Linked DNA regions of Homo sapiens. The protein of the gene in region 1 interacts with the protein of each later gene in a biochemical or structural test. Each region holds a gene or a part of one and is shown in the gene's direction. Other genes may lie near its edges.

What was found.
Region 2: the proteins of PBK (region 1) and MPP1 interact in a test that uses a peptide from one of them, tested with the Homo sapiens proteins (one large-scale study listed by IntAct).
Region 3: the proteins of PBK (region 1) and PDZD9 interact in a test that uses a peptide from one of them, tested with the Homo sapiens proteins (one large-scale study listed by IntAct).
Region 4: the proteins of PBK (region 1) and MAST4 interact in a test that uses a peptide from one of them, tested with the Homo sapiens proteins (one large-scale study listed by IntAct).
Region 5: the proteins of PBK (region 1) and PDLIM1 interact in a test that uses a peptide from one of them, tested with the Homo sapiens proteins (one large-scale study listed by IntAct).
Region 6: the proteins of PBK (region 1) and SDCBP2 interact in a test that uses a peptide from one of them, tested with the Homo sapiens proteins (one large-scale study listed by IntAct).
Region 7: the proteins of PBK (region 1) and PTPN4 interact in a test that uses a peptide from one of them, tested with the Homo sapiens proteins (one large-scale study listed by IntAct).

What each region holds. Positions count from the first base shown.
Region 1 is NC_000008.11:27,827,818-27,831,317, reverse strand, and holds part of PBK (lymphokine-activated killer T-cell-originated protein kinase), read left to right. Parts: intron 1-3,119; coding exon 3,120-3,213; intron 3,214-3,500. UniProt on the Homo sapiens protein: Phosphorylates MAP kinase p38. Seems to be active only in mitosis. May also play a role in the activation of lymphoid cells.
Region 2 is NC_000023.11:154,781,486-154,784,985, reverse strand, and holds part of MPP1 (55 kDa erythrocyte membrane protein), read left to right. Parts: intron 1-877; coding exon 878-958; intron 959-1,478; coding exon 1,479-1,559; intron 1,560-3,183; coding exon 3,184-3,386; intron 3,387-3,500. UniProt on the Homo sapiens protein: Essential regulator of neutrophil polarity. Regulates neutrophil polarization by regulating AKT1 phosphorylation through a mechanism that is independent of PIK3CG activity.
Region 3 is NC_000016.10:21,994,617-21,998,116, reverse strand, and holds part of PDZD9 (PDZ domain-containing protein 9), read left to right. Parts: intron 1-1,615; coding exon 1,616-1,795; intron 1,796-2,808; exon of another isoform or gene 2,809-2,854; coding exon of another isoform or gene 2,855-2,879; intron 2,880-3,500.
Region 4 is NC_000005.10:67,159,393-67,162,892, forward strand, and holds part of MAST4 (microtubule-associated serine/threonine-protein kinase 4), read left to right. Parts: intron 1-1,063; coding exon 1,064-1,200; intron 1,201-3,214; coding exon 3,215-3,396; intron 3,397-3,500.
Region 5 is NC_000010.11:95,239,004-95,242,503, reverse strand, and holds part of PDLIM1 (PDZ and LIM domain protein 1), read left to right. Parts: intron 1-3,500. UniProt on the Homo sapiens protein: Cytoskeletal protein that may act as an adapter that brings other proteins (like kinases) to the cytoskeleton. Involved in assembly, disassembly and directioning of stress fibers in fibroblasts.
Region 6 is NC_000020.11:1,309,409-1,312,139, reverse strand, and holds the end of SDCBP2 (syntenin-2), read left to right. Parts: intron 1-1,248; coding exon 1,249-1,340; intron 1,341-1,644; coding exon 1,645-1,699; 3' UTR 1,700-2,231; downstream 2,232-2,731.
Region 7 is NC_000002.12:119,955,422-119,958,921, forward strand, and holds part of PTPN4 (tyrosine-protein phosphatase non-receptor type 4), read left to right. Parts: intron 1-1,422; coding exon 1,423-1,513; intron 1,514-1,594; coding exon 1,595-1,656; intron 1,657-3,500. UniProt on the Homo sapiens protein: Phosphatase that plays a role in immunity, learning, synaptic plasticity or cell homeostasis. Regulates neuronal cell homeostasis by protecting neurons against apoptosis.

The sequences.
Region 1 (3,500 bases):
ACAACAGTGTGATCTCGGCTCACTGCAACCTCTACCTCCTGGGCTCAAGTGATTCTGGTGCCTTGGCCTCTGGAGTAGCTGGGATTACAGGCGTGCACCACCATGGCCGGCTAATTTTTGTATTTTCAGTAGAGACAGGTTTTCGCCATGTTGGGCAGGCTGGTCTCAAACTCCTGGCCTCAAGTGATCCACTCTCCTTGGCCTCCCTTTCAAGTGCATGCAACATTCACCAAGACACATAAACCACAAGTCAGATCCCAAAGTGTTGGGATTACCATGCCTGGCCTAGGATGGTTATTTCTTTTGATGAATTTATACCTTAACTGTTACGAAATACCCTTCTTAATCCTCAGTGGTACTCTTTGTTCTGGAGTCCACTTTATGTGATAGTAATGGAGCCACTCCAGATTTATTTTGATTTGTGTTTTAATGATGTTTTTCAACCCTTTACTCTTGCCCTATTTGCGTCTTTATATTTAAATTGAGTTTATTATAAATGGCATGTCTCGTCTTGTTTTTATCCGTTCTGACAACTTTAATTTCCTTTAACTGGACTGTTTTGCCATTAGCTACATGTGGCTATTTAAATTTGGTTATTTAAATTTGGATTATTAAATGTGGTTATTTAAATTTGGATACAAATTAATTAGAATTAAATAAAATTACAAATTGAGTTCCTCAGTTGTATTAGTCACATTTTAAGTGCTCAGCGCTCAGACAGCACAGATATAGACATTTCCACATGGCAGCATGATGTATTGGACAGCTCTGTTTAGACCATTTATACTCAATGTAATTGTCTATTGTTGGATGTAAATCGGCTGTTTTGCTATTGTCCCATAGCTCATTGATGATTTTTTTCTAACCTTTTTCTCTCTTTGCTTCATTTTTGATAGTTTTTGTTGCTCTGTCTTAAGATTTAGTTATTCTTCTGCTCTAAGATGATGTTATTCTTATCCATTGTATTTTTCATTCCTAAGCTTCTATTTTGTCTTTTTTTTTCCGTTATGCTCAGATTTTCCTTTGTATCATTGAGCACATTTTTAAGATTTGTCTTAAGGTTCTTATCTGCTAATTTTGCCATTCCTGTCATTTTTTTTTTTTTTTTTTTTCTTGAGACAGAATCTTGCTCTGTCACCCAGGCCGGAGTGCAATGGTGCGATCTCAGCTCACTGCAACCTCCACCTCCTGGGTTCAAGCAATTATCCTGCCTCAGCCTCCCGAGTAGTCGGGATTACAGGCACGTGCTACCACGCCCAGCTAATTTTTGTATTTTTAGTAGAGACAGGGTTTCGCCATGTTGGCCAGGCTGGTCTTGAACTCCTGGCCTCAAGTGATCCACCTGCCTCAGCCTCCCAAAGTGCTGGGATTACAGGCGTGAGCCACCACTCTTGGCCTCCTGTCATCTTATGGTATGTTTCTATTGATTGATTGATTTTTTAATTTTTTGAGATGGAGTCTTGTGCCCTGTCGCCCAGGCTGGAGTGCAATGGCGCTATCTCAGCTCACTGTAACCTCCGCCTCCTGGGTTCACGCCATTCTCCTGCCTCAGCCTCCCGAGTAGCTGGGATTACAGGCACGTGCCACCACACCTGGCTAATTTTTTGCCTCTTTAGTAGAGACGGGGTTTCACCATGTTGGCCAGGCTGGTCTCGAACTCCTGACCTAGTGATCTGCCTGCCTCGGCCTCCCAAAGTGCTGGGATTACAGGCGTGAGCCACCGCGCTAGGCCTCTATTGATTTATTTTTCTCCTATATTGGTCATATTTTCTTGCTGCTTTCATGCCTGGTACTTTTTGATTGGGCAGTAGATATTTTGCATTGTCTAGTACTGGATTTTGTTATTCCTTTAAAGAGTGTTTGATTTAGTTATGGTCTGAGGTTAAGTTACCTGCACATTAGCCTGTTCCTTTTGAGACTGGCTTTTAAGCTTTGTTTTGAATGTTTATCTGGGGCTAAACTTTAGCTGTACTATCTAGTTGTGACCCTTTAGAGGACTTTACTATGTGTTACAGGGTTACCATCCTCTAGCTCATGGTGATATGAAGTGTTCCTAGACTTGTATGATCTCTGGTAATTGTTGAGCCAATTGCTTTCCTCTGGTGCTTTCCCAGCTTTGGGGCATCTACACATTGTTATGTGCGGATAAGTACTTGGCCAAACACTCAAAGAGAAACTGTTCAGATCTTTGGAGTGCTCTCTTTGGAGCTCTCTAGTTCTCTGCTCCACAAATTCTAGCCGCCTAGTCCTTCTTGACCTCTGATCTCTGTCTCTTCAATGTGACAGGACTTCTGGATTATGTGACCTCTGTCCTGCAGTCTGGAAACTGCCTTCAAGCAGTAAGTTAGGGCAGTGATAGGGCCCACCTCATTTGTTTCTCTTCTCTCAGGCATCACAACACTGCTCTGCCTGTTGTCAAGTGTCTGAAAACAATTATATTTTGTCTAGTTTTCTAGTTAATGGCGAGATGGTAACTCTAGGAGCAGTTAATTGTCCAGGAGTAGTTAATTATTTTTCATGAGCAGAAGCAGAACTCCATCTTTTCATCTTTTTTTTTTTTTTTTTTTTTTTTTGAGACTGTGTCTTGCTCTGTCACCCAGGCTGAACACAGCTCACTGCACCTGCACCCTTAACCTCCTGGGCTCAAGTGTTTCTCCCAAGTAGCTGAGACCACAGGTGTGTGCCATCATTCCTGGCTAATTAAAAAAATTTTTTCGTGTGTAGAGATGGAGTCTCTTTATGTTGCCCAAGCTGGTCTCTACTGGGCTCAAGTGACCCTCCTGCCCCGGACTCCAAAAGCGTTGAGATTATAGGCATGAGCCACCACATCCAACCCCTTTATCTTTTAACAATGTTTTAAAAATGTGAAAACAGTTCTTAGCTTGTAGGCCATACAAAAACAGGCCATTTCCCAATCTCTGCTTCAGAGTTACTGTAGGATAAAACTCCAAAAGTAGGCTTGGTCAAAAGATACCCATTTAAAATTAGGATATATGTTGTCAAATTGCTCTCCAAAAAGACTGTGCCAATTAATACTCTTGGCAGTAGTATATTGAGAATGTTAAGATGCTTTATTTTTATTTTTTATTAATTTTATTTTTTATTTCTCTGACATTTAGTATTATGTTCAACTCCAACTATAAATATCCCGGCCTCTCCGTTTATGCAGAAGCTTGGCTTTGGTACTGGGGTAAATGTGTACCTAATGAAAAGGTAAGTATAAGATTTCAGATTAACCTTTTTTCATGCAACTATAATTCTACTGTACTTGGAGACAAAGAAGTAGTCTGAAAATTCCAGTATTTAGATTCGGTTGTCTGCTCCTGATCCTGGCTGATGGCTGTATTCCGGTCCCTAGACCCTTTTGTAACTTTGCCTGTAGCTCTGCCTCTGCTTTTCTCCTAGCTTCCTCCTGATGGGTTATTAAAGGGGAAGTCATTTACTTTTTAATTTTTCCTTGGCTTCCATAAGAAGGGGAAGTGGCAGGGGAAAGGGTTCCT
Region 2 (3,500 bases), on another chromosome or scaffold:
ACCAGCAGAAAAGGGGAGGTGGTGCAGTGCGCAGCAGAAGGCGCATTCTACAGAAAGCATGTCATTTCTTCTGGTTTCTTTTTATTGAATCCATCTTCACAAGCTTGCTGCAGTCAGGCCAGTGGATGTAAAGGAGGACTAGTGGTGAGCCCACACCTGCTCATCACCCCACCCCTCACACAGAAGTAGATGTGGTGGGAGAGGGGAAGTGAGGCAAGAACACAGGCCAGAGGGAGAGGCCAGGGCCAGGTCATAGGGAGCTTCGTGCACCCTCCCTAGCGTTTTAAATTTTGCACTATAGACTGTGGAGCTGGTGAAGGGTTTTGAGCAGAGAATTCGCACGGTCAGCTTTCCATCTGCATTTCTCTTTTCTGAGACGTCACGTGCACACCACCAGCCAGGGAATGATCGTGGCAGTCTTGGGTTGTAGGCAGGTAAGGGGGTGGAGAGTCAGGATGACACCAGGTCTCTATCTTGAGCAGCTGGGTCAATAGCACCACCATCTTCTAAGATAAGGGACATTCAGGCAGAACCGAGATAGCATTGGCATTCTTCAGCTCTAAGTGCCAAGGGAACATCTGATACTGAAACTATGGAGAAGAGATGAGGACAGGAGACAAGAAAAGTTGGCTCAGAGAGATAGGGCAAGGAGGAAGAGAGGGTGCAAAAGTTAGATAAACTCCCTTGCTCAAAATTCCCTCACCACACTAAAAATACAGTCCAAAGTCCTTCCTCCACACCAACCTCCCTCGTCTCATCTCTAGTCACTTCCTCCCTGCTTGTTGAGATGTCGCGAGGCTGTTTCCCATTTCAGAGTGTGGACCACTGTTCTCCCTAGCTCTGGAAATGAACACTGCTTGGTTTTCTTTGTCTCTAGTTTTTGATCAGTTGGATGTTGTTTCCTACGAGGAAGTCGTTCGGCTCCCTGCATTCAAGAGGAAGACCCTGGTGCTGATCGGTATCTTCTCATTGCCCCATTTGCACATTTCTGTCTTTGTTTTCCTGCCTGCATCACGTGCCCACCCCCAAAAAAGGCAGTGAGGAAGAAAAGAACTGAGGTCTCTTGGGTTCTCCATATAGAGCAGGTGTAAGGAATTTTCTGAATCCTCACGTGCACCCCACCTGGGTCCACCTCACAAATGAAACTAAACCTTACAAGTTTCTCTACTATTTAGCAACGAATTATTTTTGGTTAGGTTTCATGCTGTCTGCTGGCAGTGATACGCTTTGTAAATCTCCCTTCCCCCAAGCAGTGACTCTGACCTGAAACAGAGTAAGTCCTTGCTTCAAACCCAGGTATGTAGGCTTTGCCTCTGGCGGACTGCTCACCTTCCTGTCTTTAGAGTTGACCCCAGCCCAGATGCAACCCCAACTCATGTTCACCTGTTGGCAGTTTTGAGTGCCGAGAGAGGAAAATCCGTATCTTATCCTCGCTCCTCTCCCCCCTTTCCAAAAGATGTTCTTCTCTCTCTACACAGGAGCCAGTGGGGTGGGTCGCAGCCACATTAAGAATGCCCTGCTCAGCCAGAATCCGGAGAAGTTTGTGTACCCTGTCCCATGTAAGTAGCTCTTAGGCACCTTGGAGGGGAGGTGACAGGCTGGTACCACTCGCCATCTGAAATACCATAGTGTTATTTTATTATTTTTTAAATTATTTTATTTTAAATGATTATTAAAACTAAACAAAATATGGAAAGATAAAAATTTGTGCCCACAATTCCTCCACCTAACAGAATAACTGTTTTCTTATTGTTATTCGTGCTGTTTGTCTACATAACAGAAGCTATAGTAAACATTTTGATACTGCCTTAAAAATTACTAAGTATTAAAGTTTATACATATAACTTTGTCATTTTACTTTTTAAACATTTTCTCATGTTCCTCTGCAATTTGCCTAATTCTCTTTGAGAACTATCCCACTCTTGATGTTCAGGCTGCCTCTCATTTTCATGGAATGTCTTCTAAATCAAAGCAGTGCCTAGGAAAGGCCCAAACGATCTCAACAGCAGTCCTAGATATGGAGAAGAGTAGCGCCAGTGATCAGGTGGAGAATTTGATAACTCTTCCATTCCCAGAAGTGATGCTGCATGGTATAGTTGTGTATGTTCCCAGAAAGAAATACGGTGATTCCTCACTTAATATTGTCAATAGGCTCTTCGAAGACTGTGACTTTAAGTGAAATGACATATAACAAGAACCAGTTTTTTTACTCATCAACAATACAATGAAATGAAGTTGAACTAAACCATGTTAGTCAACGACCAGCTGCATGTGATTTCACTTAAAGTCACATTTTCTAAGAACCTACTGATAATAATATTAAGTGAGGAATTACTGTACTGCTAAGCAAAATAGAAAACCAGATTCTAAACCTCATATTACTATTTTTTAATTCTTTCTTCATTTTGCTTTTTTACACATGGATCATTGAGAGTTGTCTCGTTGCTGGAGGGACATAAGAGTTATTCCAGTGTCACATTAGGAGCAGAAAGAGATGGCCCCAGGAGTGAGTGGGGAAGCAGAAATAACCAGTACAGGCTCCTCCTTCAAGAGAATCACATGTGGTTGTAGATTGAGGGGAAGGGGCCAGTTGAGAGACAAGTGTGATCCGGAAGGCAAAGGAGACAGTCAATGGAAGATGGAAAGAGGGGAGGTTGGGAGGATTGTGTTTCAAGCTACAATATCTGGAGCATATTTTACTGATTAGACAATTTATATGAGTAATAGAAAATAGTCCAACTTTTAACAACATGAGCTGAAACTAAACCAAAGTACTCTTCTTTCCAAGTCATGAAAAGGAAACCTTAAATATATTTCCAAGAAATCCTGACCATAGTCTGTAGATCTGTTTTTAAAATATTTTCCGCTATCTTCATTTCTAAGTTTCAATATTCCTAGATTTGGTAGTTTGAGAGATGTAACTTCATTTAGGGAAAATGATAATAGGAATTTTCTATGTTAGGCTTTGCCCCTTAAAAATTAAATGTGTCCTGGGCAGATGGAGGGATTTCCTGGTGTGCATCACTTTCTAGCATCAGCTCTTCAGGAGCCCACGGGAGGAACCCCTGTATTAAAGTCAATGCACCAAAGGCAGCTAGGGTTTCCATACAGACACCATGGTCCAAGCCCTCATGAAAGGGTGAGGACCTGGAGTTTGTCGGGGATTTGGGTTCTTGTACACAGATACAACACGGCCGCCAAGGAAGAGTGAGGAAGATGGGAAGGAGTACCACTTTATCTCAACGGAGGAGATGACGAGGAACATCTCTGCCAATGAGTTCTTGGAGTTTGGCAGCTACCAAGGCAACATGTTTGGCACCAAATTTGAAACAGTGCACCAGATCCATAAGCAGAACAAGATTGCCATCCTTGACATTGAGCCCCAGGTGGGTAGGCATGGAAGGGCAGGGACAGATGGGCTCAGCCACACAAGGGATGGCGAAGACAGTGCTCCTTGGGAATCTTCTGGGGGCTCAGGATTGCTTCAGCCTTTTAATGGG
Region 3 (3,500 bases), on another chromosome or scaffold:
AGTTGCTCCCAGAACCCTGAAAGGTCTCTGAAGATGGTATCTTGTTTATATTATGCTATTTTATTTTCCCAAACAGAGAGCATCTGTGGTTTGGGGGAAGGTGAGGTTGGAGATGGGCAAGGACATTTGCTTTAGAGGAAAGGGCCATGAACCCCTCCAGCTCCCCACAGCCAGAGGTAGGGAGCTGGGGGAGCCTCTCCCTCAGCAGTGGCCCTGAAAACACCACAGTCACATGGACTTGGCAAGCTTGTGTGTCACCTGTCCTTATGGAAAGGAGTTGTGTGTGAAATGCTGGAAAAGTGTGCTGAAAACAGATCTCCCCAGGAGCTTCCTGTGTACCGAAAAGGAGTTTCCTAGCAACTTCCTCTTGGGAAATTAACTTGTTGTTTTGAATGTCCTTTTAGTCCCTGAAATTTTTCTTGTGAGATTTGGTTCTGTAGAAAACATATTTCAACCTCTCCCACTACCCCTTGTCTCCAAGGCCTTCGGATTTTCCCCCATGTGCTTTTTGGATCCATCCACTGCTCATTTCCGCTGTCACTGCCATGACATGTGCCAGGACCCTGTCATTTTCATGTCATTTCATTTCATCTAACCATGTCCAGCTTTACTCACTTCGGAGCCTTTTCACTAAGGAAGTCTGAGAAGCAGCCTCTGTCTGGTTGGTCCTCGCTCCTCCTGCCTCCCCCTCCTCTGACAGGGACTGTTCCTTCCTTTCTCAGACCTTAACACAATTTGCTCCGGATCCACCTTTCTTTGCCTAAATATTTCCTATTGGTCCTTTTGGCCTTAATTCAAATTTTAGCCCTGCTGGAAGCTTGACCCGCCATCCCCAGATGAGACTTTGGCCCTCTGTTACTCATTCTCAGAGCCCTCCGTCCTTTTCTTTCATAGCATGAGTTACAGTTTGTTATCCAACATATATTTACATGACTGATTGATATCTGTCCCCTCCACTAGGCTGTAAAATTCATGAGGACAAGAAACACATGTGGGCCAGGCACGGTGGCTCACACCTGTAATGCCAGCACTTTGGGAGGCTGAGGTGGGAGGATTGCTTGAGTCCAGGAGTTCAAGACTAGCCTGGCCAATATAGTGAGACCCTGTCTCTACAAAAACAATAAAAATTAGCCGTGTATAGTAGCACATGCCAGTAGTCCCAGCTACTTAGGAGGCTGAGGTGGGAGGAGCCCTTGAGCCCAGGAGATCGAGGCTGCAGTGAGCCCTGATAATGCTGCTGCACTCCAGCCTGGGCAACAGAGTGAGACATTGTCTGTTAAAACCAAAAAACCCAACACATCTGTTTTGCTCACCATGGTAAACCCAGGGCCTAGCACACTGTATCAATAAATATTTGTTAAGTGAACAGATAATACTAACTAATATTGATTAAGCACTCACAATATGCCAGACTCTGCAAAAGCCCTTTAATGCACCCATTTAATTTTCAGAAGAGCTCTCCAAGGTGAACATTTTTATCCTCATTTTACTGACAAGGAATCTGAGGAACAGGGATTAAATAACTGTCCCAGGGATCTGGCTTCAGAACCCCAGTAGGTATGGCCATGCTTCTGTCTTGGTGAAGGACTGAAATAAGTTCCCCTCTTTTGGTTAGAAAGAGGAGTCAGCAACAAGGTCAAAACATCTGTACACAACTTGAGCAAAACACAGCAGACCAAACTCACTGTGGGTAGCCTGGGATTAGGCCTCATCATCATCCAGCATGGACCCTACCTCCAGATCACCCACCTCATCAGGAAGGGGGCTGCAGCCAACGACGGGAAACTCCAGCCAGGTGATTGCCCTTTCGCCATGCTTCCCAACCACCCATCCTGCCCATCTGCCTGCAGGGTGACTCGGGTCACCGGGTTTCAGTGTAACTATAAGGATATGACGGGCATGCTGGCTCATGCCTGTAATCCCAGCACTTTGGGAGGCCAAGGCGGGGTGGATCACTTAAGGTCAGGAGTTTGAGACCAGCCTGGCCAACATGGTAAAACTTTGTCTCTACTAAAAATACAAAAACTGGCTGGGAGCAGTGGCTCATGCCTGTAATCCCAGCACTTTGGGAGGCTGAGGTGGGTGGATCCTGAGGTAGGGAGTTCGAGACCAGCCTGGCCAACATGGTGAAACCCTGTCTCTATTAAAAATACAAAAATTAGCCAGGCGTGGTGGCACATGCCTGTAATGCCAGCTACTTGAGAGGCTGAGGCAGGAGAATCGCTTGTACCCAGGAAGTGGAGGTTGCAGTGAGCTGAGATCGCGCCACTGCACTCCAGCCTGAGTGACAGAGACTCCGTCTCAAAAAATAATTAAATAAATAAATAAATAAAATAAATACAAATACAAAAATTAGCTGGGCCTAGTGGCGGGCGCCTGTAGTCCCAGCTACTCAGGAGGCTCAGGCAGGAGAATCTCTTGAACCCGGGAGGCGGAGGTTGCAGTGAGCTGAGATGGCAGCACTGTACTCCAGCCTGGGTGACAGAGTGAGACTCTGTCTCAAAAAAAAAGGATATGACATTAGTTGAGAACTTTCTATGGGCCAGCCAATGGCTATCACTTATATAACTATCACTGTTGGGCATATTAATTCATTTAATTCTGGCTGGGTACAGTGGCTTACACCTGTAATTCCAGCACTTTGGGAAGCCAAGGTGGGAGGATCCGTTGATGCCAGGAATTCAAGGCCAGCCTGAGCAACACAGTGAGATGCTGTCTATATTAGTCCGTTCTTGCACTGCTATAAAGAAATACCTGAAACTGGGTCATTTATAAGAAAAGAGGTTTAATTGGCTCATGGTTCTGCAGGCTGTACAGGAAGCATGGCTGGGGAGGCCTCAGGAAACTTACAATCATGGCAGAAGGTGAAGAGGAAGGAGGTATGTCTTACATGGTTGGAGCGGGAGGAAGAGAGAGTAGGGGGAGGTGCTACACACGTTTAAACAACCAGATCTCATAAGAACTCACTCGCTATCACGAGAACAGGAAGGGGGAAATCTGCCCTTGTGATCCAGTCACCTCCCCCCAGGCCCCTCCTCCAACACCGGGGACTACAGTTGAACATGAGATGTGGGCGGGGACACAAATCCAAACCATATCACCATTTCTACAACAAAACGAAAGCAGCCCGGCATGGTGCGTGCCCGTAATCCTAGCTACTCAGGAGGCTGAGGTGGGAGGATCACTTGAGTGCAGGAGGCCGAGGCTGTAGTGAGCTATGATTGTGCCACTGCATGCCAACCTGGGTAACAGAGTGAGACCCTACCTCTAAAAAAAAAAAAAAAATTAAATTTACTTAATGAGGGTCAGTGAGATTGAGTTCCTTGTCCAGGTCACCTGTTTCTCCTAAGTGGGGATTCAGGGACCATGTTACTCCAGAGCTATGGCTCTCAGTGCGTAAAGATATTTTCTTTCGTAGGCAGTATTAAGCATTGCTAACACTTAGCTGCACGATCTCATTTCACTCTCACAATCCCTGAGCTAGATTCTGCATGAAACCA
Region 4 (3,500 bases), on another chromosome or scaffold:
AAATCAAGGGGGAAGGTAGATGCTATCTTTAAGACAGTCATTCCCTGTCTTTTCAGTCCTCTGCTGCCACCATACCTAACTCCCCCCAACTCCCCTTCACTTGGTACCATGTTGAGCTGAGCTCTAGGTATCTTCCAGGCATGGGCCTTTAAAAAGATCCTTTTCCTTGTACCTCTTGTACTTTCATGGTAATCGGGGCCATCTGTGACCTTGAAAGGACAGGTTTCTCCCCTGGTTATTATGAAATTCAGGAAGGGTAATTGATGCCAGGGACTACCCACCTGCCCTGGGCCCCCCTCGGCCTGACTGCTGACTCCACGCTCAGTTCCATCCCTAGAGGCTGCCCAGCAAGCCCCTTCCCAGGATTGAGAGAAAGGACACCGAAACTCACAGAAATTACCTTACCCTGTATGACCTGGTTAAAAAGAGGTTTCCTACTGGCTGGCATAAATGTTCCAGCTCTGCAAACTGATAGGTTTTATGGTGATAGAAAAGGAGCCTTTTAAAATAATTAAAAATAAAAGTCTCATTCGGTTTTGTTACTCTACAATTTTTAGGCCAAAGGAAAAACACAAAAAGGAGAAAAAAGAAAAATCAACCAAGAGCAGCCAGCCACTGGGAACATTAATACTTAATACCTGTGGAAGAAGTAGTTATCTTATTTATAGTGTTCTTTCCTTGTGTTGCACTGGGTGCAAAAGGCTTTACAGACTTGCTCTCATGTGATCCTCAAATGAGCCCCAGGAGATAGGTAGGATTATATTGTTAATTGGTACAGGAAGTTGAGGGTAGGGAGGGTAGCAGCCTGGTAAGGGCACAGTGCTTGGATTTGAACTCAGATCTGTGGACTCCAGAACTCACCCTCGTAAAGAAACTTCATATTTTGCCTTCCACCCAGTTTGTATTCTGGCAGGACTTCTTTGATTGAAGGGTTATTTAGAAACAGAAGGCCTTTTATATGTATGTTCCTTTCTATTTGTATTTGTCTATGAATCTCTCATCTCTGTTCTGATCTTGCTTCATCACAGCATTTCCCTTTAATGCCACCTCATCTTTTCTTTAGAGTGGGAATAAGGTGTCAATCACTACTACCCCATTTGAAAACACATCAATCAAAACTGGACCAGCCAGGAGAAACAGCTATAAGAGCCGGATGGTGAGGCGGAGCAAGAAATCCAAGAAGAAAGAAAGTCTCGAAAGGTTAGTAAAATCAGTATTCTTTTTAAGTTTGGTGTATACCTATGTTGGGGAAAAGTTACCCCTTAATTAAATGCTTATATATGAAGAAGATCTATTTTTCTGTGAGAAATTTTATGTTATGGTTCACATATATGTATACATTAAAATCCATATTCATAATAGCATCAACTTCCATAGTAAAAGGATTTACATATTTACATTGTGGAAGGATTCAGATTGTTTTTTATCATGTGTGAATGTCAGGAAAAGCCCTTTGCTGTTTTTTAAGCCTCTTCACTTGATTTCAGTTGAGTTGGATTGAGGAACTGGATCTTCAGGTGGTTTTTAACATTAAATCTACATTTAAAATGTCCTTTACGTTATCAAAAAACAAACAGTTGCTATTTTTAAAATGCCAGATATTCTAAAATTACTGTTACCTTTAAAGGTTCCGAATAAGCCTAGAAATAAAAGGGCTTTGTTTTACTCACTGAAAAACGAACTAGCTTATATACTTTTGTAGCCTGGGAAGCACTGATCAGTATCTTTTTGTGCTGCTTGCAGACACTAGCAAGAGGTATGTGTTTCTGGCAGGGCTGTTTCTTGCCAGGCAGCTCTCTGGGTGTGCCTCCTTTGCAATGCCACAGCATTTCTTTACTCAATTGGGCCTGATGAGTCACATCATATTAAAAGGATTTTTGATGATAGAAATGTAGAAAAACAAGCAAACGAAAAGCCATGTATTAACTCTGGGGGGAAAAAAAGTTATACAAGAAAGGAACAGAATTATGTTTCATATGGCCCAGCTGTGAACAATATTTATAATATAAGATAAAATACCGGCCGTTTTTCTAACCAAAAATTTTGCTTTCGCTATATTGGGAAGAATAGAAAAGGGGAAATATATTTGGTTGCAAGGTAGAAGGTGGTTGTATAAGAGCTTAATTATCATCTTTCATAGTAGAAAATCAACAGGTAATTTCTAAAACTGAAAAACTAAAAAATAGCAGTGTACAAACATTTAGCAATATGTAGACAAATGGGAGAAGAAACAGGTAAAAGAATACAAAGCGACTTCTTTGGGGAGTAGAGAAAAATTCGAGTAGAGGAGTTGCTGTTTTTCATTGTATGTTTATAGAAGTATTTGACTTTTTCACCCAAGTACATTTATTACTCTGATTAAAATTACACACACATAAGATCTTCTTTATTATTATGCTTTATATTTTGGCTGTGCTTTAAATCATTTAGAACAAATTGTTTCAAGGGCTAGCAACCAGAAACTTTGTTTTAAGCTTATGTGGAGTGGGTTAGATCTTACCATATATAGGCTTATATGGTAAAAGAACTTTGCACAGCCCGATGCCCTGCTAAGGTGTCAGAAGCTGTGCTTTTGCCTTAAGATGTGCTCATTGAGTACCAAATCCACATTTGCTTCTGCTGCAGTACAGTGTCTGCTGCCCTGCTGATACGATACGCTTCAGCTTCACCTTTCTCGGTTTTTTCTATGTCGTTGTACAGCCTGCATTGTTGTTAGGAATATTCAAGAGCCCACAATGGAATAAGCACAGCAAATAGCCCTTCATTGGCCTCTGCCCAGCCTATCACCATTAAAGAATTTGATTTCCAATACAATGGTTTTGCTTCCAGAGGTTTACTTTGTATTATCTCTTAGTTAAGTTGTGTCTGCATATTTAGGGGTAGGTACTCAGAAGCTTTCAAGCAAAGAGCATCCTCCTCATATACCTAACAAGTAAATGAATGTATTTTTAATGCATTTTATATTTTTCCTATTTTTCCAACTCTTCTTAAGTGTTTGGAATTGAGAGAGGCTCCATTGTCTACTATTAAATACTCTTCCTTTACATGTCATAAGAAGGTTTCTAATAGGAAAGTGGTGTTCTGCTCTTTAATAGGATCTGCTGTTGTATCCCTGTCCCTCACACGGAGTTATTGAGCTGAGCACAATGGTATTTTGGGGAGGCAGCAATAGTTCTGAAAGAAGACTGAACAATTTTTTCCTGTTTTTCTGTAGGAGGAGATCTCTTTTCAAAAAGCTAGCCAAGCAGCCTTCTCCTTTACTCCACACCAGCCGAAGTTTCTCCTGCTTGAACAGATCCCTGTCATCGGGTGAGAGCCTCCCAGGTTCCCCCACTCATAGCTTGTCTCCCCGGTCTCCAACACCAAGCTACCGCTCCACCCCTGACTTCCCATCTGGTGAGTGAGTCTCCTGGTCTAAACAGCAGAGGGGAGGGGAGGTAAAGTCATGTGAGGTCCCCAAAAAACATGAAGCTTGTTCCAGCTGAAAGAAAGCAGGTTGA
Region 5 (3,500 bases), on another chromosome or scaffold:
TGTTGGCCAGGCTGGTCTCGAACTCCTGACCTCAAGTGATCTGCCCGCCTTGGTCTTCCAAAGTGCTGGGGATTACAGGCATGAGCCACTGCGCCCGGCCTTGAGTGCAGAATTTAAGGGGGCACTGGAAAACTCAATAATCATGAAAAAAAATGACATTTAAATGCAATATTAAAAAAATTAATACAGGTAAAATATATGGTGAACAAAGTTGGAACTTTGGCCTCCTCCCAAAGGAAGGGAGGAAGGCTTGGGAAGGGCAAGAAGTTGCCCTAGGCTCGGGGAGAACAGAAGCACCAAGGTGGTTTCTCCTTATGCACCTGCTGGTGGGGCAGAACTGAGTCTTCCCCAAGCCCATCTGTAGAGCTCACCACTTAAAACCATGGAGCCTCCTAATCTCAGCCCCATCTCATGTGCTGCCAGGTGGACATCTGTGTGCATCGGTTCCCAGCGATGAATAGTCCCAGCTCTGAGGGGGGAAGCCTAAGTCTGAGCCATGGCAGCATGATAGGGCTATTGAGAGTTCAGGCTGCATTCACATATACCCTCTTGTTGTTCCCCATAAGCCAGCCAAGTACCCCAAACCATCTCTCATATTGTATTATTCAGCAGTGGGTAATCTGTATTTATGAGGGCTACCGGATAGCTGTGGCTCTGCTGGGCTTGGCAGGGCTGGACCAGGCCCCGAGTCCTCTCATTCAAGCCCAGGGAAGGGAGAGGCACTCTGGTGCTTGCTGTTTTCATGGCAGAGGCAATACCTCTGTGGGAACAGGGCCAAACCACACAAGTGCCCTTAGTGCTTTTGCCTGTATAAGGCTCACATCTGCTCACGTTGGCTAAAGTCAGGATGGGGAAGTCTACTCCATCGAGAGCAGGGTTTCTCAGCCTTGGTGCTATTGACATTTTGGGCCATATGAGTCCTTGTTGTGGGGCTGCCCTGTGTATTTTGGGATGTTCAGCAGCATCCCTGACCTCTGCCCACTAGACGCCAGTGGCATCCCCTTTCACTGTGACAATCGAAACTGCTCTCTAGGAGACAAAACTGCCCCCAGTAGGGAACCACTGACTGGAGGTAAGCATGGCAAGAGAGGGGCGGGGTAATTGTGGTCAAAATACAGTCAACCATGTATTCTAAATGCCCCTTGTTGCCAGGCACAGTGGCTACTGGAGAAGCTCTGGTGGGAGGATCGCTGGAGGGCAGGACTTTGAGACACAACATAGCGAGATGCTATCTCTAATCAGTAAAAATAAACAATTAATAAATGTCCATTGTGTGAACATGTGTCTCAATTTTTGGTTCGGAAGGATTGGTCAGCATACAGGGACTCACTTTCTGAAAGAACAAGAGAGCTAAGGCCCTTGTCTGTCAGCCCCGCGATTGCCCGACGTGACTGCAGTCATGGGGTGACCCTCTCTTCATCCCCTCACCTGGCACAGGAAGCTGTTTCTTTGCTCTTGTCCAGTGGTTCTTGGATCAGTGGCGCCTGGGAACTTGTTGGAAATGCAGTCTTAGGCCCCATCCTGGGCCTTCTGGCTCAGAAACTCTGGGGGTGGGGCCCAGCAATCTGTGTGTTAACAAGGCCTCCAGGTGATTTTTACCATTATTAATAGCTACCATGGTACAGGGCTTTGTTACCTAAGATGTGATGAGTGGGGCCTTAGGCAGCTCAGCATCTAGCTACTAGGGGCTTATTTTACACGCACCAGGCTGACTACAGAAAGGCTCCTTCCTCTGCTCTGTAGGAGATGATTGTTATCTGCCTGCTGTAGCATGCTGTATTCTGATGGTTTTGTTCTATCTGTGATGTGGATTTCTTTTCTAAGAACTTTATTTATTTTTAAATTTCCAACATTTAAGTTCAGGGGTACATGTGTAGGATGCACAGGTTTGTTACATAGGTAATGACGTGCCATGGTGGTTTGCTGCACAGATCATCCCATCACCTAGATATTAAGCCCAGCATCCATCAGCCATTCTTCCAGATGTTCTCCTTCCCCCACTCCCCACCATCTGACAGGCCCTAGTGTGTCTTGTCCCTCCACCATGTGTCCATCTGTTCTCATCATTCAGCTCCCACTTACAAGTGAGAATATGTGGTATTTGGTTTTGTGTTCCTGCATTAGTTTGCTGAGGGTAATGGCTTCCAGTTCCATCCATGTCCCTGCAAAGGACAAGATCTCGTTCCTTTTTATGGCTGCATAGTATTCCCTGGTGTATACGTACCACATTTTCTTTATCCAGTCTATCATTGATGGGAATTTAGGTTGATTCCATGTCTTTGCTATCATGAATAGTGAGTGCTGTGATGAACGTAAGAGTGCATGTATTTTCATGATAGAATGATTTATATTCCTTTGGGTATACATCCAGTAATGGGATTGCTGGGCTGAATGGTATTTGTGCTTCTAGGTCTTTGAGGACTCACCACACTGTCTTCCACAATGTTTGAACTAATTTACATCCCAACAGTGTGAAAGCGTTCTTTTTTCTCCACAACCTTGCCAGCATCTGTTGTTTTTTTACTTTTTAATAATAGCCATTCAGACTGGCGTGAGTCGGTATCTCATTGTGGTTTTGATTTGTATTTCTCTAATGATCAGTGATGTCGAGCTTTTTTTCATGTTTGTTGGCCGCATGTATGTCTTTTGAAAACTGTCTGTTCATGTTCTTTGCCCACTTTTTAATGGGGTTATTTTTTTCTTTTATTGAGATGGAGTCTCGCTCTGTTGCCCAGGCTGGAGTGCAGTGGCACAATCTCAGCCCATTGCAACCTCCGCCTCCTGGGTTCAAGTGATTCTCTTGCCTCAGCCTCCTGAGTAGCTGGAACTATAGGTGCATGCCACCACACCTGGCTAATTTTTGTAATTTTAGTAGAGAGGGGGTTTGGCTATGTTGGCCAGGCTATTCTCAAATTCCTGACCTCAGGTGATCCACCCACCTCGGCCTCCCAAAGTGTTGGGATTACAGAAGTGAGCTACTGTGCCCGGCTTATTTTTTTCTTGTAAATTTGTTTTAAGTTCCTTGCAGATGCTGGATATTAGACCTTTGTCAGATGGATAGATTGCAAAAATTTTCTCGCATTCTGTGGGTTGTCTCTTCATTTTGATGATAGTTTCTTTTGCTGTGCAGAAGCTCTTTAGTTTAATTAGATCCCATTTGTCAATTTTTGCTTTTGTTACAATTGCTTTTCGGGTTTTCATCATGAAATCTTTGCCCATGCCCATGTCCTGAATGGTATTGCCTAGATTTTCTTGTAGTGTTTTTATAGTTTTGGGCTTTACATTTAAGTCTTTAATCCATCTTGAGCTGATTTTTATATATGGTGTAAAGAAGGGATCCAGTTTCAATTTTCTGCATATGGCTAGCCAGGTCTCCCAGCACCATTTATTAAATAGGGAATCCTTTCTTCATTGCTTGTTTTTGTCAGGTTTGTCAAAGATCAGATGGTTGTGGGTGTGTGGTCTCGTTTCTGGGTTCTCTGTTCTCTGTTCTTCTACCA
Region 6 (2,731 bases), on another chromosome or scaffold:
GATCACTAAGTCCAGGAGCACGAGACCAGCCTGGGCAATGTGAAACCCTCTTTCCACAAAAAAAACTAAAAAATTAGCCAAGCGTGGTGGTGCACACCTGTAGTCCTAGCTACTCAGGAGGCTGAGGTGGGAGGACTAATTGAGCCTGGGAGGTCAAGGATGCAGTGAGCTATGATCATGCCACTGCACTCCAGCCTGGGCAACAGAGAGAGACCCTGTCTCCAAAAAAAAAAAAAAAAGACAGTGTACCTAGAGCTCTGAGCACAGTGCCAGGCACATAGCAGGTGCTTAATACATAATAGCTATTGCTGGCTGCATGGACACCTCCTTGCTCTGTATGGCACTTTTTTTGGTATAGTGGATCATGTTCAGTAGTTTAGGAATGTTTTAGAAAATCGTTATTCAGAAATCCATGGGGTCGTGAGGTTCTTCAGAACTGGGTTTGTCCCAGCCAGCCACACTTCTTGAGATCGTTTGTCTTTTCAAAGTTTATTTCCACCTGTGGCCATCACTAGTCCTGTCTAGCACATCTTCTCACATTTATTTTCGAACAACCAAGAAAACACATAACCAGATAACATACATGTGTAATGTAAAGGTCAATAGGCTCTGAGTGAGGGCCAGAGGCTCTTCTATGGCCATAACGTTAGTGTTTGGACCACCTGGCACGCTTTGCGTAGAGACTTTTAATTTCTTGTTCTTCCCATGATCTAAGTGGTGTCTGCAGGCCCATCTCTTTTTATCAAACAAGCAAATGTAAGAGGATGTAAGAGGAGGAGGATCCTTATGGCCCTGGAGGCAGCAGGAGCCAGAGGGTGGATGGGTACGCCTAGTACCTCCCACAGGATGGGGAGGCATTTATGCTTTGAGGCCAGAACCCAAATGTGACTGTGGGCTTGGTGAGTCTCTGGGAGCCCTTGGAAGGGGGAGGAGAATCGCATTGATGAGGCCCTGTTACGCGTCAGGCTCACACCGCTGGCCTTCAAGCTGAGGGTGGGAAGAGGCATGCTCATTTGACCAAGGAGATCCTCAGGTGGGAGACCCATGTTCTCACTCAAGCAAGACCTTACCTGGGAGTCTGCTGGGACCCTCATCTGACAGGCTCGGGGTCCGAGGCAGCCCTGCCCTGCAGTCAGCCATCAGTGGTGTCCTCTAGCAGTGGCCATGCTGATCCCTCCACAGAGGGGCCTGTAGAGTTGCCCCTGGTCCCCAATCCTTAGGGTGATCGCTTACTTGCCTCCTCCCTAGGACAAAAAGATCATGGAGATTCTGGCCACGGCTGGGAACGTTGTCACCCTGACCATCATCCCCAGTGTGATCTACGAGCACATGGTCAAAAAGTAAGGCTGCACCCCTCCTCACCCCTCCTCACCCCTCCTCTGCCATCCCCTTCACCTCCCGGCCTCCCAGGTGCACCTGGCTCAGCCACTTCCACTTTCTCAGTGCTGACACAGGGCACAGGCTCAGCCAGCTCTATCCTCCCTTCCCCTCCCTCCAAGGTAGCTTGTGGCTTCTGGTGATTCGAAAGTCTTAGAACTGGGAGTGAAGGCCCACATGGGATGCACTGGCTCGGAAGGGGGTGGAGGTTGCTGGAGGGTGGAGAGAAGGAGCTGCCAACCTGGTCACTGTTGTTGCTGTATCCAGGTTGCCTCCAGTCCTGCTCCACCACACCATGGACCACTCCATCCCAGATGCCTGAAGCCACTGCAGGGCAGGGCAGGCAGGGGGGGCTTCCCGCCCTCCTGCAGCAAAGGGCAACCACCCTCGGATGATGGGTTGCAGCCGGCCTGCTGCTTAAGGTGGGGGCTGCCATGAGGGGGGCGTGTCCAGGAGGGTGACCATGGGATGGCTTATACACACAGGCCTCCTTGGAGCCTCAGACTCCAAGCTAGGCTGAGGCTCAGGCAGGGCCCACAGGCAGCCGATTCTCTTGTGCTGATTTAAATGCTGGACACGGAGGCAGGCTGTTTAAACGCTGCTTAAAGTCGCAACTGGGCCCCTTTCAAGAAATTTTGCTCTACCAGGAAAACAGTTACACATTTTAAGAGAACAGAGCTACGTTCTTTGTGAGAGCTTTTTCCTTGCCTTGACTTGCTCTTTGTCACAGACTGCATAAGTTGTCAGCCTTGACTATCTTTTGAATAAAGATTTGATTTTAAACAAAACCCTGTCCGCAAAGGTAATTGATTCCCCCAAAACTATTGAAAATAAAATAAAAAGGTAACTGAAAATTCTGGAATCCTTGGTCCCCTGACGTGCCAGGGCTGGTTTCCTCTTAAACCGTGGTGAGACCAGGGCCTTTTCTACGCGTGGCCTCTGAGAGCCATGATTTGGCTCTGCCTCTGTCACGTGCCACCTGCCAGCCTGGCGCGGGGATGACTGGAACTGGGGACAGGATGGAACTGTGGGGATGGGGTAGGACTGTGGGGCAGTGGGGCTGACAAAGGGAGCACTGGCTTTGGGGCACCCCCCGTGTGACCGTGGCTGCTTCTGCTTCTGCAAAGTGGGCATGAGAAGCCACTTTAGGGGGTGTTGGGGAAGGTGAGACGCGATGTGCTCATGGCGCCCAGCAGGGTGTGCCATGTGGGGGCAGGGGGAGGTGGCTCCAGACTCTGAGCCTGACCCCAAGAGGGCAGTGGTGCCTCAGCCCCACACAGCTCTCTGCTTCCCTGCACATCAGAGATGATCGCTGCCCACGTGGCTTTTTCCCGTGCGGGTGTTGTGACCCCTG
Region 7 (3,500 bases), on another chromosome or scaffold:
CTAAAATGATATTCTGAGAAATGTTTGACATAAAGAGTTCTAAAATGCCAAGTTTTAAAAATTGCTCCCAAAATACTAGCTATGGTTATATAAATAGAATATGTTTTAAAAAGAGGGATAAGGAAATTTTATACATATGTCATCAAACTAAATTTTTTTCTATAGTTAAATAGCTGTTTTTTTGAAAGGTGGCAGATGAAGATAGGCTATTATATACTTTAAAATCCTGAGCTTGGCCAGGTGTGGTGGCTCACGCCTGTAATCCCAGCACTTTGGGAGGCCGAGGCGGGCGGATCACAAGGTCAGGAGATCAAGACAATCCTGGCCAACACGGTGAAACCCCGTCTCTACTAAAAATACAAAAAATTAGCCGGGTGTGGTGGCAGGTGCCTGTAGTCCCAGCTACTCAGGAGGCTGAGGCAGGAGAATGGCGTGAACCTGGGAGGCAGAGCTTGCAGTGAGCTGAGATCGCGCCACTGCACTCCAGCCTGGGCGACAGAGTGAGACTCCATCTCAAAAAAATAATAAATAAATAAATAAATAAATAAATAAATAAATAAATAAAATCCTGAGCTAAAGGAAAATAACTTTTATTTTTGAAGTTTATACCTTGTCATTTAATCTTTGTTTATTTTTCATTGGTGCAATCTTGAAAACTGGAAAAACCAAAACTTTCAGACAGATCATTATATCCAATGAACTAGAATGCTTCTTCAGTGCTTATAATGTGCATTTTGACCCACGATCACCCAGTGGATTTTGAAATGTTTTATTCAGACTATATCAACCTAATTTGTTTAAATTAATAAACCTGAATTTTTTTTTTTTTTTTTTTTTTTGAGAAGCGGCCTCTCACTATGTTGCCTAGGCTGATCTCAAATTCCTATGTCCAAACAATCCTCCAGCCTCAGCCTCTCAAGTAGCTGGAATTACAGGCATGCACAGCCATGCTAGGCTCCCTGGATAGTTTTTAATGTGTTTTTAGAAATGACCATCATTAATATTTGTTGTTCTGACATATATGTTATAGGTAAGTGTTTAACTATAAAACATTTAGGATATGTCTGTTTTTGTTCAAAAGTTCTTAGTTCATAGACTGTAAACACCTCCAAACTAAATGAAAGTTAAATGTTTTCTGCAGATTTGCTACTCACAACTTCAGGTGCTCCTGCTGTAAGCAGAATTGGTTTCACTAGTTTTACCACTTTTCAAAATATGACACATAATTTATGTTAGAAACTGAAGAATTCAGCTTTGCAAATCTGGTTCAGTACTCTACTAGACTATGGTATATCATTGTATAGATGACCTATTCAAAGGCAAAGAAACCTGTTTCCTGTTAGTGTAGAAACAAGTCTGGTAAACAAAAGAGAAATTGTTTATGGCTTTTGTTGGAATTGTACCTTTTTTTTTTTTTTTTAGCAACTGTATCGGAAAAAACCTGGAATGACAATGTCCTGTGCCAAATTACCTCAGAATATTTCCAAAAATAGATACAGAGATATTTCGCCTTGTAAGTATCTTATTGTCTCTGTTAAATTTAATCTTTTAAACATAACTTTACTAAAACATTATTTCTTTTAAATTTTTTTAGATGATGCCACACGGGTCATTTTAAAAGGTAATGAAGACTACATCAATGCGAACTATATAAATGTAAGTTTATTCTTATTATGCCTTTGCCATTTGGAAAAATACGAGCCACTATGAACTTTGAGGTTCTTTTTGTTAAAATCCTGACCTGGATAGAATATTAAAACTTTCAGCTATGAAAAATATTATTGAAGTAATATTAAAGAAAATATTTTGGTACTTGTGTATTAATACAGGTAGAGCAGTGGAATGGAATAGTCCAGTTCATAAATAGACTTAGATACTAGAATTTTGTTTATGGTAGAGGTGGCCTTTTAGATCATTGGAGATAGACTATCCAGTGAATGGGTGGTTGGGTCAACTGTCTAGAACAGGAGCCCCCAACCCCTGGGCCATGGACCAGTAATTGTCTAGGTTGCATGCTCATTATGAAAATCTAATGCCTGATGATCTGTGGTGGAACAGTTTCATCCTGTAACCATCCCCACCTCCCACCCTCCCAACCCCACTCCATGGAAAAATTGTCTTCCAAGAAACCAGTCCCTGGTGCCAAAAAGGTTGGGGACCACTAGTCTAGAATACGTCATTGTAAAGAGGCATTTTTTTTTCTTACCTGGAAAAAAAAATTACTATTTTTTTCTTAACTCTGTAATTAGAAAATTTCAAATGTACAAAATTAAAGCAAACCGTAAAATCAACCTTCATGTACACATCACTCAGTTTCAGCACTTGTCAACTGATGACAAACTTGGTTTCACCTTTACCAGGTTCTTTTGAAGCAGATCTTTATATCATATCGTTCATCTATAAATACTTTACCTCTACTCACTCTTGATGCCAACATGTATTTCAAATATATCAAAATGTAATTTTTAAAGTGGAATTATGAAATTATTTGAAGGAAATATGTGAAAATTGTTTAAAATCTCAAGGGGAGGTTTTTTAAGCTTAGATACATGTCTAAGCTTAAAGAGATGAATTTGACAAGGTAAAATTTGTTATTTTTGGTATGCTTAAAAACTACTAAAATCAAATGACAAATGGAATTTTTTAAATACTAGAAAAAGCTTATTTAATATACAAAGAGCTTCATAAATGAATAAGAAAAGTAAGCCTCGGCAACATATTGAGACCCCATTTCTCGAATAAAAATAAAAATATAAAAATATAAAAATTAGCAGTCATGGTGGTGCATGCCTGTTGTCCCAGCTACTCAGGAGACTGAGGTGGGAGAATTGCTTGAGCCTGAGAGGTTGAGGCTGCAGTGAGCCATGATCACATGACTGTCACTGGGTGACAGAACAAGACCCGTCTAAAAAAAAAAAAAAGAACAATGAAAATAATGGATGAAGGACATGCAAAGACAATTCATAGAAAAGGAAATTATGCAAATGACATTTTTAATAGTCATTTTTAAATTTATACAAAAGTAGAGAGAATAGTATAAAAGAGTCCCCCCATACCTCTTACGCAGTTTCAAGAGCTATCAACTAGTGGCCAATCTTAGCTAAATACTAACCTCCAAATTATTTTTAAGCCCAAATATATCACTGTATATGTCAGTTGAGTTAATTCTCACCATTCGATGTTGTCATGCTCTAGAAAGTCTTTGTACATGCTAAATTAGAGACTATTTAATCATTGCTTCTAGGGAAAATACAGGGTTAGGTTCCCCCAGGCCAAAAGTCACAACATTTTAATTAGCTGATCAATACATACTGTTGTTTCTGTTTAAAGACACTTTATTTAATATATAGTGCTGATTCATTAACATTTAACTCATAGTCAACAGCACTATAACTCATGCCTCAAGGAAGCTTATCTAACACACATATTTTCTCCATGAGGTATATCACATCCTTCTTGCACTTAGAAACACTAGTCAGCACTTTAAAACTACACTTGGG